Homo sapiens: one gene and its partners. Changing the gene in region 2 together with the main gene of any one other region gives a genetic interaction. Each region holds a gene or a part of one and is shown on either strand. Other genes may lie near its edges. The genes, in order: RRM2, PARP1 and CHEK1.

What was found.
Region 1: changes in PARP1 (region 2) and RRM2 together harm fitness more than expected from each alone (negative genetic interaction), as found in Homo sapiens cells (one large-scale study listed by BioGRID).
Region 3: changes in PARP1 (region 2) and CHEK1 together harm fitness more than expected from each alone (negative genetic interaction), as found in Homo sapiens cells (one large-scale study listed by BioGRID).

What each region holds. Positions count from the first base shown.
Region 1 is NC_000002.12:10,128,700-10,131,940, reverse strand, and holds the end of RRM2 (ribonucleoside-diphosphate reductase subunit M2), read right to left. Parts: intron 3,094-3,241; coding exon 2,989-3,093; intron 2,901-2,988; coding exon 2,787-2,900; intron 2,708-2,786; coding exon 2,555-2,707; 3' UTR 527-2,554; downstream 1-526. UniProt on the Homo sapiens protein: Provides the precursors necessary for DNA synthesis. Catalyzes the biosynthesis of deoxyribonucleotides from the corresponding ribonucleotides. Inhibits Wnt signaling.
Region 2 is NC_000001.11:226,380,459-226,384,111, forward strand, and holds part of PARP1 (poly [ADP-ribose] polymerase 1), read right to left. Parts: intron 2,726-3,653; coding exon 2,578-2,725; intron 751-2,577; coding exon 610-750; intron 1-609. UniProt on the Homo sapiens protein: Poly-ADP-ribosyltransferase that mediates poly-ADP-ribosylation of proteins and plays a key role in DNA repair.
Region 3 is NC_000011.10:125,638,554-125,642,206, reverse strand, and holds part of CHEK1 (serine/threonine-protein kinase Chk1), read right to left. Parts: intron 1-3,653. UniProt on the Homo sapiens protein: Serine/threonine-protein kinase which is required for checkpoint-mediated cell cycle arrest and activation of DNA repair in response to the presence of DNA damage or unreplicated DNA.

The DNA of each region.
Region 1 (3,241 bases), on a different chromosome or scaffold from region 2:
GCTCCCCCACGGTTGAGAAGTTAACTCAGCCCCGGCTTCACAAACCCCACGTGCAGTATGGCAGTTAGTATTTTTGGGCACCACCTTTCGGGTGTACCTGTCTCCTATACACCTTGTGCCAATAGGCACAAGGCAAGTCTCTTGCCCAGAACCAGTGGAAAGCAAATGAATTCGTTAGCCTTTACAAAAAACACCTTTTTTTTTCAGACAGTCTCACTCTGCTGCCCAGGCTGGAGTGCAGCGGTGCAATCTCAGCTCACTGCAACCTCTGCCTCCCGGGTTCAAGTGATTCTCCTGCCTCAGCCTCACGAGTAGCTGGGATTACAGGCGTGTGCCACCATGCCAGGCTAATTTTTGTATTTTTAGTAGAGATGGGGTGTCACCATGTTGGCCAGGCTGATCTCGAACTCCTGAGCTCAGGTGATCTGCCTACCTTGGTCTCCCAAAGTGCTGGGATTACAGCCATGCCTGGCCAAAAAATATTTCTCTTCCTGAATTAAAATGCAAATTTTACCAATCAAGAAACTGACATAAGAACAGTTTTATTTTAATCACTTAAGACTTGTGCATTATTCAATTTTGAGACTGAAATACTTGTTTCCCTTTCAACTGATTAGGAAATGGTCTGAGCTGGCAGAAGTTAATCCTCACATTATTCAGCTAATGAGAGACAGAATCCTAAAACCTGATTCCAACTTCCGCCTGTACCTCACAATGCAAGACAAAGCCTTTCATTTTAATGTTGTACACATATAAGGACCATATAATCTGGATTAACTTTAGGTAACAATAACTTAAAAGATAGGAAAATGTATCATATTACAGAGATTTAAAAATTGTCTATACAATAAATGATGAAGAAAACTAACAATAAACAGGACGACGTTCAAATACTGAATACAATTAACAAATGGGGCCAAAAGATCAACATTTATCTCTCATCATCTTTCATGCAATGTCTCAGCTTTCTTCTCCCAAACATAAAGGCAGATTAATTCAAAGTAGCCCTATTAAGAATATTTGTTTATCACGCCTGCAATCCCAGCACTTTGGGAGGCCGAGGTGGGTGGATCACCTGAGGTCAGGAGTTCAAGACCAGCCTGACCAATATGGTGAAACTCCATCTCTACTAAAAATACAAAAATTAGCCAGGTGTGGTAGCACATACCTGCAGTCCCAGCTACTAGGGAGGCTGAGACAGGAGAATTGCTTGAACCCAGGAGATGGAGGTTACAGTGAGCCAAAATCGCGCCACTGCACTCCAGCCTGGGCAACAGAGCGAGACTCCATCTCAAAAAAAAAAAAAAAAATTATGTTTCATTCTGAAATTAATATTTGAATGGAAACTGTATTAACAGCTCATGGTTTCCTACTAAAGTTTAAGATCCCCCTAGACAATGCTCAGATTTAGACAATGCCAGAATAAGACACTGGGTGACTGAAGTATGAACTACAGGTAAAATCTAGAAGAACATAGATAATAAAAAATTTCTGATTTAACAGACATAGTAAATATAAATGAATTAACTCACACAACCTACTTACACCAAACAAAACTAGAATGAACAACTTGTAGGAACCACCTCTAGTTGATTTCACCACTTAACAGGGGCAAGATCTTAGGTGGATCATTTTGTTTAAGGATGACTTGAAATTTTACAATACTACCTTAGCTCCCACATATGAAAACTCTTCAAGAATTTTTTCTCATCAACCAGACGTTGAGGAAAATACAGTGAGAAATAAAATGAAACGGCTTCTCACACATATGAAGGCCCAGATCACCCCTAAATTTCTAGTGATTTAACTTAAGAAGCTCCTTGCCCTGAGAGATTCCTTTATCCCACAACACTCTACTCAGAGGGGGCAGAGAATCCCAGGACACTACACAAGCCACAGGATAAAAACACAACCTGTCTTCTATCTGGCACCAACTGACTAATATCTAGGTATACACAGGACTGACTTTAAAGTTGGTTAACAAATATTTTAATTCATTAAAATAAAACTTAAAAATTACATGCTTAGTCTACACAAGTTTAACTTACTTTAGTCACTTAGTGAATTGTGAATTGGCTCCCATTAGTGGTCAGGAGAATGTATTTGGTGTAGAAACCAAATAAATCAAGCTATTATCGCCTTGTGAGTACAAACAATGTTTATTTGTTTGTAAAGTGCCAGGTTTATATTTAAGTAAACATTAAAATCTGCGTTGAAGCAGTGAGGCTGCATCTTTTAACTGGCTGTGCTGGTTAAAGGACTGTTTAATCCCGCTGTGCTAAGCTCACTAAAGGGTCACCCCTCACTTTAAAGCCAAGACTGCCATTGTCACTGCTATGGTAAGTCACAGCCAGCCAGGCCTTCTGGCAAAAGGTGATACTACCAGCACTATAAACAGACAGGACTGGTTGTGAGGTAGCTACACAGTTTTAAAGATGCTGTTAATGAACATTACGGACAATTCATGGTGTGGCTAGTTGGTAACACTTCAGCTGATTTTTCTTATGAGATGGAAAAAAAAAATCAGCCAAGTAAGGGCACATCTTCAGTTCATTTAGAAGTCAGCATCCAAGGTAAAAGAATTCTCTGTTGGACTTGACATCACTCCCATCCTCTGATACTCGCCTACTCTCTTCTCAAAGAAGTTAGTCTTTCCTTCCAGTGAAATATTCTCCATAAAGTCAAATGGGTTCTCTACTCTGAAAACCTGAAAAGGTTCACATCAAGATATAAATACAGAGCACCAGCTTCAAAACAAGCAAAAGGCTATGTAAACAATACTTTACCTTGCTAAAACCCAGTTCCAGCATAAGTCTGTCTGCCACAAACTCAATGTATTGCTTCATTAGAGTGCAATTCATCCCAATGAGCTTCACAGGCAAGGCCTCAGTGAGGAACTCCTAGGAACCAAAATACAGCTTCTGAATACAACTAAAGCACAGGCATTTTCTAGCAAGCTTGAGTGACCCATTTCATCACCCACTTTACCTGTTCTATCCGAACAGCATTGATAATTATTTCTCTTACTCTCTCCTCCGATGGTTTGTGTACCAGGTGTTTGAACATCAGGCAAGCAAAATCACAGTGTAAACCCTAGAAAAAAAAGTTCAAGATCACTAAAGCCAGAAGACTTCTGTCATTAACATGGAATATGAAATTACTTTGTCCTTTTCTGCATTCTCCTTATCCAACATGCTCAGCCATACTGAGAGCACTTGAACTCTCAAAGGGAAGATGACTT
Region 2 (3,653 bases):
CTCTGGTTCCTGAAGACCTACAGTGGTAATCAGCATAATAAACCCACACAGAAACCTGTTTAGCTTTGTTTTACCCTACCTTTTCCAAACATACTTGAACCTTGAACTTCTGTTTTGGCAGATATCTATGCACATCTTACAGAGCAGTGCGAAGTGATGAGAATACAGGTTGAGCAGCTTCCCTTATCCGAGATGCTTGAGACCAGAAACCTTTCAGACCTTAAAATACTTGCTTCATATTTACTGACTGAGCATCTAATCCAAAACTCTGAAATCTGAAATGCTCCAATGAACATTTCCTTTGAGCATCATGTTGTCACTCAAAAAGTGTTGAATTTTGAGGCAATTTGTTTGGGCTTCGGGACTAGGGAGACTCAACCTATAGTAGCTTACCGTCTTTAGTTGAGAACACGCAATGCATGTGAATCTACAGTACAAAGCAGCAACACTGAGAGCAAATACTGGTTTCCCTTCATAAAGAACCACAGCGATGATGATGTTAAGATCCAGTTTTTCAGCGCTGTGTTCGACTCTTCCTCACTTACTCGTCATCACAATCATAAGATACAGAAGCATTGTCCCTGTTGCACAAATTCAGATTCAACTCACTTTTGGTGCTGATGCACAGGGAAGCCTTGTTGGCCGTCCCCGTCAACTTCCCCCCGAGTTTCTCAATCATGGCCTTCACTTCATCCTTGTTCCGGGACAGCTTCCCGAGAGTCAGGATCTTCATGTTGGATAATGGCTTATCTGGGATGAAAGGAGAGAATCATTCAGCAAGGCCAGCTCTGGTGCTGCTCCCCAGTAAGGGGAGGTGGAGGAGCAGGTGAGCCAAGCAGCGAGCTCCTGGGAAAAGCCTATGAAAATACACTCGCGAGAAAACAGGACGGGACAGCAAGCTGCCACCTGAGTACCTACAGATGTCCCTCAGCACAGAAAGGACTGGGCAGGGAGCAAGCCACAAAATGCCACTCCATGGCCAGGCCAGCCTCGCGGCGTGAGCCAGGCAGCTGCGGGTTACCCCAGGTCCGCGCCAAGGTCAGGCTAGGAAGGCTGCATCTGCGGACGAGGGACCAGGAGGCTGGAGTCGGATGGGAAGAGGGGTAAGGTCACATGAACCCCCAATTCCTTCTGTTATTCTCCCAAACAAACTGCAATTCTTATGAATTAACCCCATTTTAAAATGAGACATGTCCATGATAGTCCCTCAAAGCAGTGGCCAGCACAATCACACGGAGCTGAGCTAACTGATTCTAGGAGAAAAGCAGCAGCCTGGTGTGCACTGACCCAGGCCAGAAAGGCCTGGACAGGGGTGTGCCTTCTGTTCACAGCAAACAACACAGTGCAGGTGACACCCGTCCAGAACTGGAGTAGCTGCAAGGAAAAGTCCTTCCTGCCTTCCCTGTGAGGGCAAACAACTAGGAAACACTGACAGTTTAACTGAAACTGCTGAGGTCTCCAGAGAACAAAATTATTGACTCATGCTGAACTGCAAGTCAGGGGAAAGCAGAGGAGGGAACCCTCCATGGAGGGGTCAGAATGCCAGCCCCCAACTGGCCCTTCATGTGGGCACCTGGACCCAGGCTGCCAGCAGCACAGTGGACTCGGGATGACCACCAGCACACACTGCAGTGACCACTGGTCCCCTCTCAGGATATGAAAAGGAAGTCAATAACAGGTTTATGTTCAAGGAAGGAACCCTCATCCTCCACCCACCAAACTGTGACCTTCACCAATAGACTATGCCACATGTCTCTGAGTAAACAAGCAGCGGGTCACTTCTCCTGCCAAAAAAATACGTTGCTCTCACTGTCTTGGTTGGCTTGGGGCATTTCTCACTAGTGCTGATTAGTAACTCCCTCTGCATACAACAGAGACTTGAGCATCACACCAGGGCCCGGATGACTGGTGGGCGCAGGGCAGCCTGGAGAGTGAGGCCTGGGATGCTCCTCTGCAGTGCAGTCAGGCAGGAGACCCTGCGCCCAACTCCAGGTAAGGCTGTCGACCTAGCCTTTCTTAGGAGCCCCTCTCCTAGCCTCCCAGAGTAAGAGCTGCTTGTTCTTCTACAATGTTTATTTTATTTTTAGAGATAGGGTATCACTCCATCGCCCAAGCTGGTGTGCATTAGCGTGATCATAGCTCAGTGCAGCCTTGACCTCCCAGGCTCAAGGGATCCTCCGCCTCAGCCTCCTGAGTATCTAGGGCTAAAGGCACATACTCGGATTAATTTTAAACATTTTTGTAGAGATGGGGTCTCACTACATTGCCCAGGTTGGTCTCAAACTCCTGGCCTCAGCAATTCTTTTGCCTCAGCTTCCTAAAGTGCTGGGATTACAGGTGTGAGTCACTGCTCCCAGCCGATGCTATGTTCTTAACACTCTCCCACCTTGCTGTGGTCAGGGGTGTAACAAGCCAAGAGAAGAGGCCTATCCCCTGCAGGGCAAGGCTTCCCCATGGTGGGGTCAGCAAAGAGAGACCCTTGACGGATACTTTCTTCACCAGCTCCACACCACCAGCAAGTAGTGGGCAAACAATTCCTGCAAAGCAGCTCTAAGACCGGGGTCCCAAATGCTGTACCTGCTGAAGCAGAGGAGTTCACAGCAGCAGGAGCCGAGGCTGTGGAGGGCGGAGGCGTGGCCGCCACGGAGGCGCTGGTTTCTGGGGGGAATATACGGTCCTGTTTTTTAACCTTCAATTTCTTGAGGTAAGAGATTTCTCGGAATTCCTAAAAAATATTAAGTTTTAGTTAAGAAGCCAGCTCTCCCTTGAGGTAACCACCCCATAGACCAAAGAGGATTTGGCTTGTCCAAATCAAATAATCTCTTTTTTTCTTCTTACAATAAAGAGTAACAAAAAATAGAAAAATGTGAGGCTTTAAGGATGAAAGACAGTATTATTGCTGCTACAGTACTTATTTCCGGTACTTTTACATTTATAATAGGGCTAATATTGTGGCTGCTTTAAGAGAAAAATCTTTCCCTAAAAAAAACAAAAACAGAAACCAGTGGCCAATTCGGTCAGGGAACCACCACTGGAACTGCTGTATGACTACAACCTCCCTGGCCTCATTCCTGAGTTGCTCCCTTCGAGAGTTAATAGGCCTCTGTGGGATCACATGCCTACTCCAGAACTCCAAGACCCCGAATACTATATACACACTGGGAGATTATTACCCAAAAGGAAATCACAGTATTTGCTTTCCTTTTTAGAAGAAGGAAAAATGAATGCAGGGAGCCCTATGGTATTCACTATAAATTCTTCCATCAGCACAATTCACTCTTCACTCTGACTGATTTACAAGGGGCCTTGCTCTAAATGGTCACTCAATAAGTATCAAATACATGAAGCTCAGGGAAAGATACTGTGCTCCCAGGTCTTCATCCAATCAAGAAACTGCCCTTTCCAGCTATGCCTGTGTTCAGGATGTCAGTTAGATACAAGAGGTCACAGATTGCTTCCGACACACACAGACCACCTAATATGTGCTACCAACCATAGTCTGGTTAAAAAGACAGTTTCTGCTCTTCAGAAAGTATCTCATTCGTGACTGAGCATCAGCTATAGGAAGGTGAACTTTAACAAAGGAGCTAAGCTATGCCAGAGGTGTGCCAAGGTGATGTGAGACAGGGAATGCTAGCATGCACTTGGAGGCA
Region 3 (3,653 bases), on a different chromosome or scaffold from region 2:
CCAGGAAAGGCTTATTGGAAAGATGACACTGAAGTCAATATCCAAAGAAAGTAAGAGAATAAGACATGCAAATAAGTCCCATGGGAAAAAGCATTTTCAGACATAGGAACAGTCACTACAAAAACAGTGAGGTAGAAGTGTGCCTAGAGCACTTGGAGAACAATAAGAAGAACAACAATATGACCAAGGGGGAGCAAAGCAGAACTGAGGTTGGAGAGGTAATGTAAGGAACAAAATTGTGTAAGAACTCACAGGTCATGAACTGATTTTAGCTTACACTACACGTGAGAACTAAAGCATTGGAGGATTTGGGTAGAATAGTGATATATTCTAATTCACTTTTAAATCAGAACATTTTGGAAAGATATCATGGTAATTTGGAATGATAGGGTAACAGTAGAGGTAAAAAAAAAAAAGGTAATCAGATTCTAAGATTTTTTTAAAGATAGAGGTTAACAGAATTAGCTGGTGTACTGGATGTGAAGTAAAAGAGAATGAGAAAAATGAAGGATGATTCCAAAGTTTCTGATCTGCATAATAAGAATAATGCAGTTGCCATTAACCAACATGGGAAAGACTTTGAAAAGGAATGGGTTTGAAAGGAAAAGATCAGTAACTCAGTTTGGAATTCATCAAGTGTGAGATGCCTCTTAACATTCAAGTGAAATTTCAGAAGGCAGTTAAGACATGTAAGTTTGGAATTCAGAGGAAAGGTCTAGGTTGATATAAATGTGACTATCAACATATAGTTTTATTTAGAGCCATGAAACCAAGTAATATCACTAATGGAGTGAGTGTGGAGAAGAAAACAAAGGAGATCCATAGATTCAGCCCTGGAGAACTCCAATAGTAGGAGGCTGAGCAGATGAAAAAAAACCATCAAGAGACTGAAAAGAGCGACCAGTGAGAAGGACGAAAATCAGAAGAGTGTAACGCCTGGAAGCCAAATGAAGAAAGTGTTTAAAGGAGGAGGGCATGATCAACTGTATAAAATATTGATGAGATAAAACAAGAGGTCTGAGAACTGACTACAGTAGTACCCCCCTTATCCACAGAGGGATATGTTCAAGTGGATGCCTGAAAGTACAAATGGTACCAAACCCTATATATGTTCTTTCGATCTAATAACCAAAACAGCTACTAAGGGAGTTACAAGCAGGTAGCACATGGAACGTGAATACACTGGAAAAAGGAGTGATTCACATCCCAAGTGAGATGAAGTAGGACAGCACAAGATTTTATTATGCTACTCAGAACAGCACACAATTTAAAACCTATGGCAGGGCATTGTGGCTCATGCCTATAATCCCAGTACTTTGGGAGGCCGGGGTGGGTGGATTGCTTAAGCCCAGCAGTTTGAGAACAGCTGGGATTACAGGCGTGAACCACCACACCTGGCTAATTTTTGTATTTTTGGTAGAAAAGCATAGGCAACATGGCGAAACCTCATCTCTACCAAAAATACAAAAATTAGCCGGGCATAGTGGCTCACACCTGTAGTCCCAGCTACTCGGGAAGCTGAGATGGGAGGATCATTTAAGCTCAGGAGGTAGAGGTTTCAGTAAGTGGAGACCACGCCACTGCACTCCAGTCTGGGCGACAGAGCGAGATCCCGTCTCGAATTAAATAAATAAATAAAACCCATGAATTTCTTTTTTTTTTTTTTTGAGACGGAGTCTCGCTGTTGCCCAGGCTGGAGTGCAGTGGTGCGATCTCGGCTCACTGCAAGCTCCGCCCCCCGGGGTTCACGCCATTCTCTTGCCTCAGCCTCCCGAGTAGCTGGGACTACAGGCGACCGCCACCTCGCCCGGCTAATTTTTTGTATTTTTAGTAGAGACGGGGTGACACCGTGTTAGCCAGGATGGTCTCGATCTCCTGACCTCGTGATCCGCCCGCCTTGGCCTCCCAAAGTGCTGGGATTACAGGCGTGAGCCACCGCGCCCGGCCAAAACCCATGAATTGATGAATTGTTTACTTCTGGTACTTTCCATTTAATCTTTTCAGACCTCGGTTGACCACAGTGGACTATTACATTGAACTTGGCAACACGTTCCAAAAATCACTGTGACTCTTGGCAACAAAATAGATGAAATTGAAAACTAGTTTTGAGGTGTTAGAGATGAGAAGCAATTTTAGGAATATTCAATTGTGAAGAAGATGGAATGGTAGGGAAAAGTGGAGTTAAGAGAAATTTTATTACCATTATGATTTGATTTTAAAATGGGAGAAAAAGCATGTAGATATGCTGATGAGAAAGATCCGGTAGAGAAGGAAAAATTAATAATGTAGGAGAGGGAGAAAAATTGCTAGACAAAGTCATTGAGTGGGTAAGAGAAAGACCTGGCTTACATCCAGAGCAATTTATCTACAGCAATACAGGATGAAAGAGAATACATGAGCATAGAGGCAGTTAGTATGGAGGAGATGGTGGTGGGAGCTTGCCTAAGTTCTCTTGTGGCTTTCATTTCCCAGTGACACAGGAAGCAAAGTGAACAACTGAGAGTGAGGATGGAGAGAAGATAATAAAAGTTAAGGGACCAGACACAGTAGCTCACACCTATAAACCCAGCACTTTGGGAGGCTGAGGCAGGGGGATCACTTGAGGCTAGGAGTTTGAGACCAGCCTGGCCAGCATGGCAAAACCTCTACTAAAAATATAAAAATTAGCCAGGTGTGGTGGTTCACACCTGTAATCCCAGCTACTCGGGTGGCTAAGGCACGAGAATCGAATCGCTTGAACCTGAGAGGCAGAGGTTGAAGTGAGTGGAGATGGCGCCACTGCACTCCAGCCTAGACCCTGTCTCAAAAAAAAAAAAAAAAAAAAGAGAAAAGTATTATAAAAACGTGATTTAGGAGAACAGGACAGAGAAAGATGTGGGGAAACGAAGGCCAAATGCCAGGAAGCATTAAGGGCCCACTTGAGATTAGTAATCCTGAATTTAAAGTGAACATTTTTGGGTATTTTTCTCCTGCTGCAATCTGTTGTGCAGGTACAAGTGTGCAGTACGTAGAAAACTACTAGATTAAACCCAGAAACTACTTACTGGGTTTTACCCACTAAGTATGATGAAGAGAGAAGGGGACAAGGAAATTGAAGATGATGAACGCAAAGCAGTCATTTATAATGACTAACCTAAAGATTTAAGATAGGTAAAGATGAAATCAAGGACCTAGAGAGGGAGCAGGTAAGAGACTGAAGAGATAGAATTAATTAATTGCAAGTCCAGATACAAAGGACTGTTTAAGTTAGAATATTAAGGGAGGAAGTCAGAAAAAATTATACTGGTGATCAGTGCAGCGTGTTCAAAGACAACATCACTATAGGAGAGAGGGTCAAGAAACAGTGAAGTCAGGATATCAGGAGGATGATCCAAATAAATATTTAAATCACCAAGAATCATGACGAAAATAACATCAAGAGTCATTTTGCAGACTGTGATAGTACGGCAGAAATTTTAATTTGGGGTTCAAAAGTTAGAGGGGAGAGACATAAAGGAAGATGGGAGAAAGTGACAATGAAGAATAAGGAGGACACCTGTACCATGTCCAGATCAAAGGACATGAGGGTATGGGAAAGAAAACACCTACCGCTTCAGAGGAAGCAGTGTCCTCAGGGGAGAATTGGACTTTAAGTTAGGACAAGGAGGAAGAAA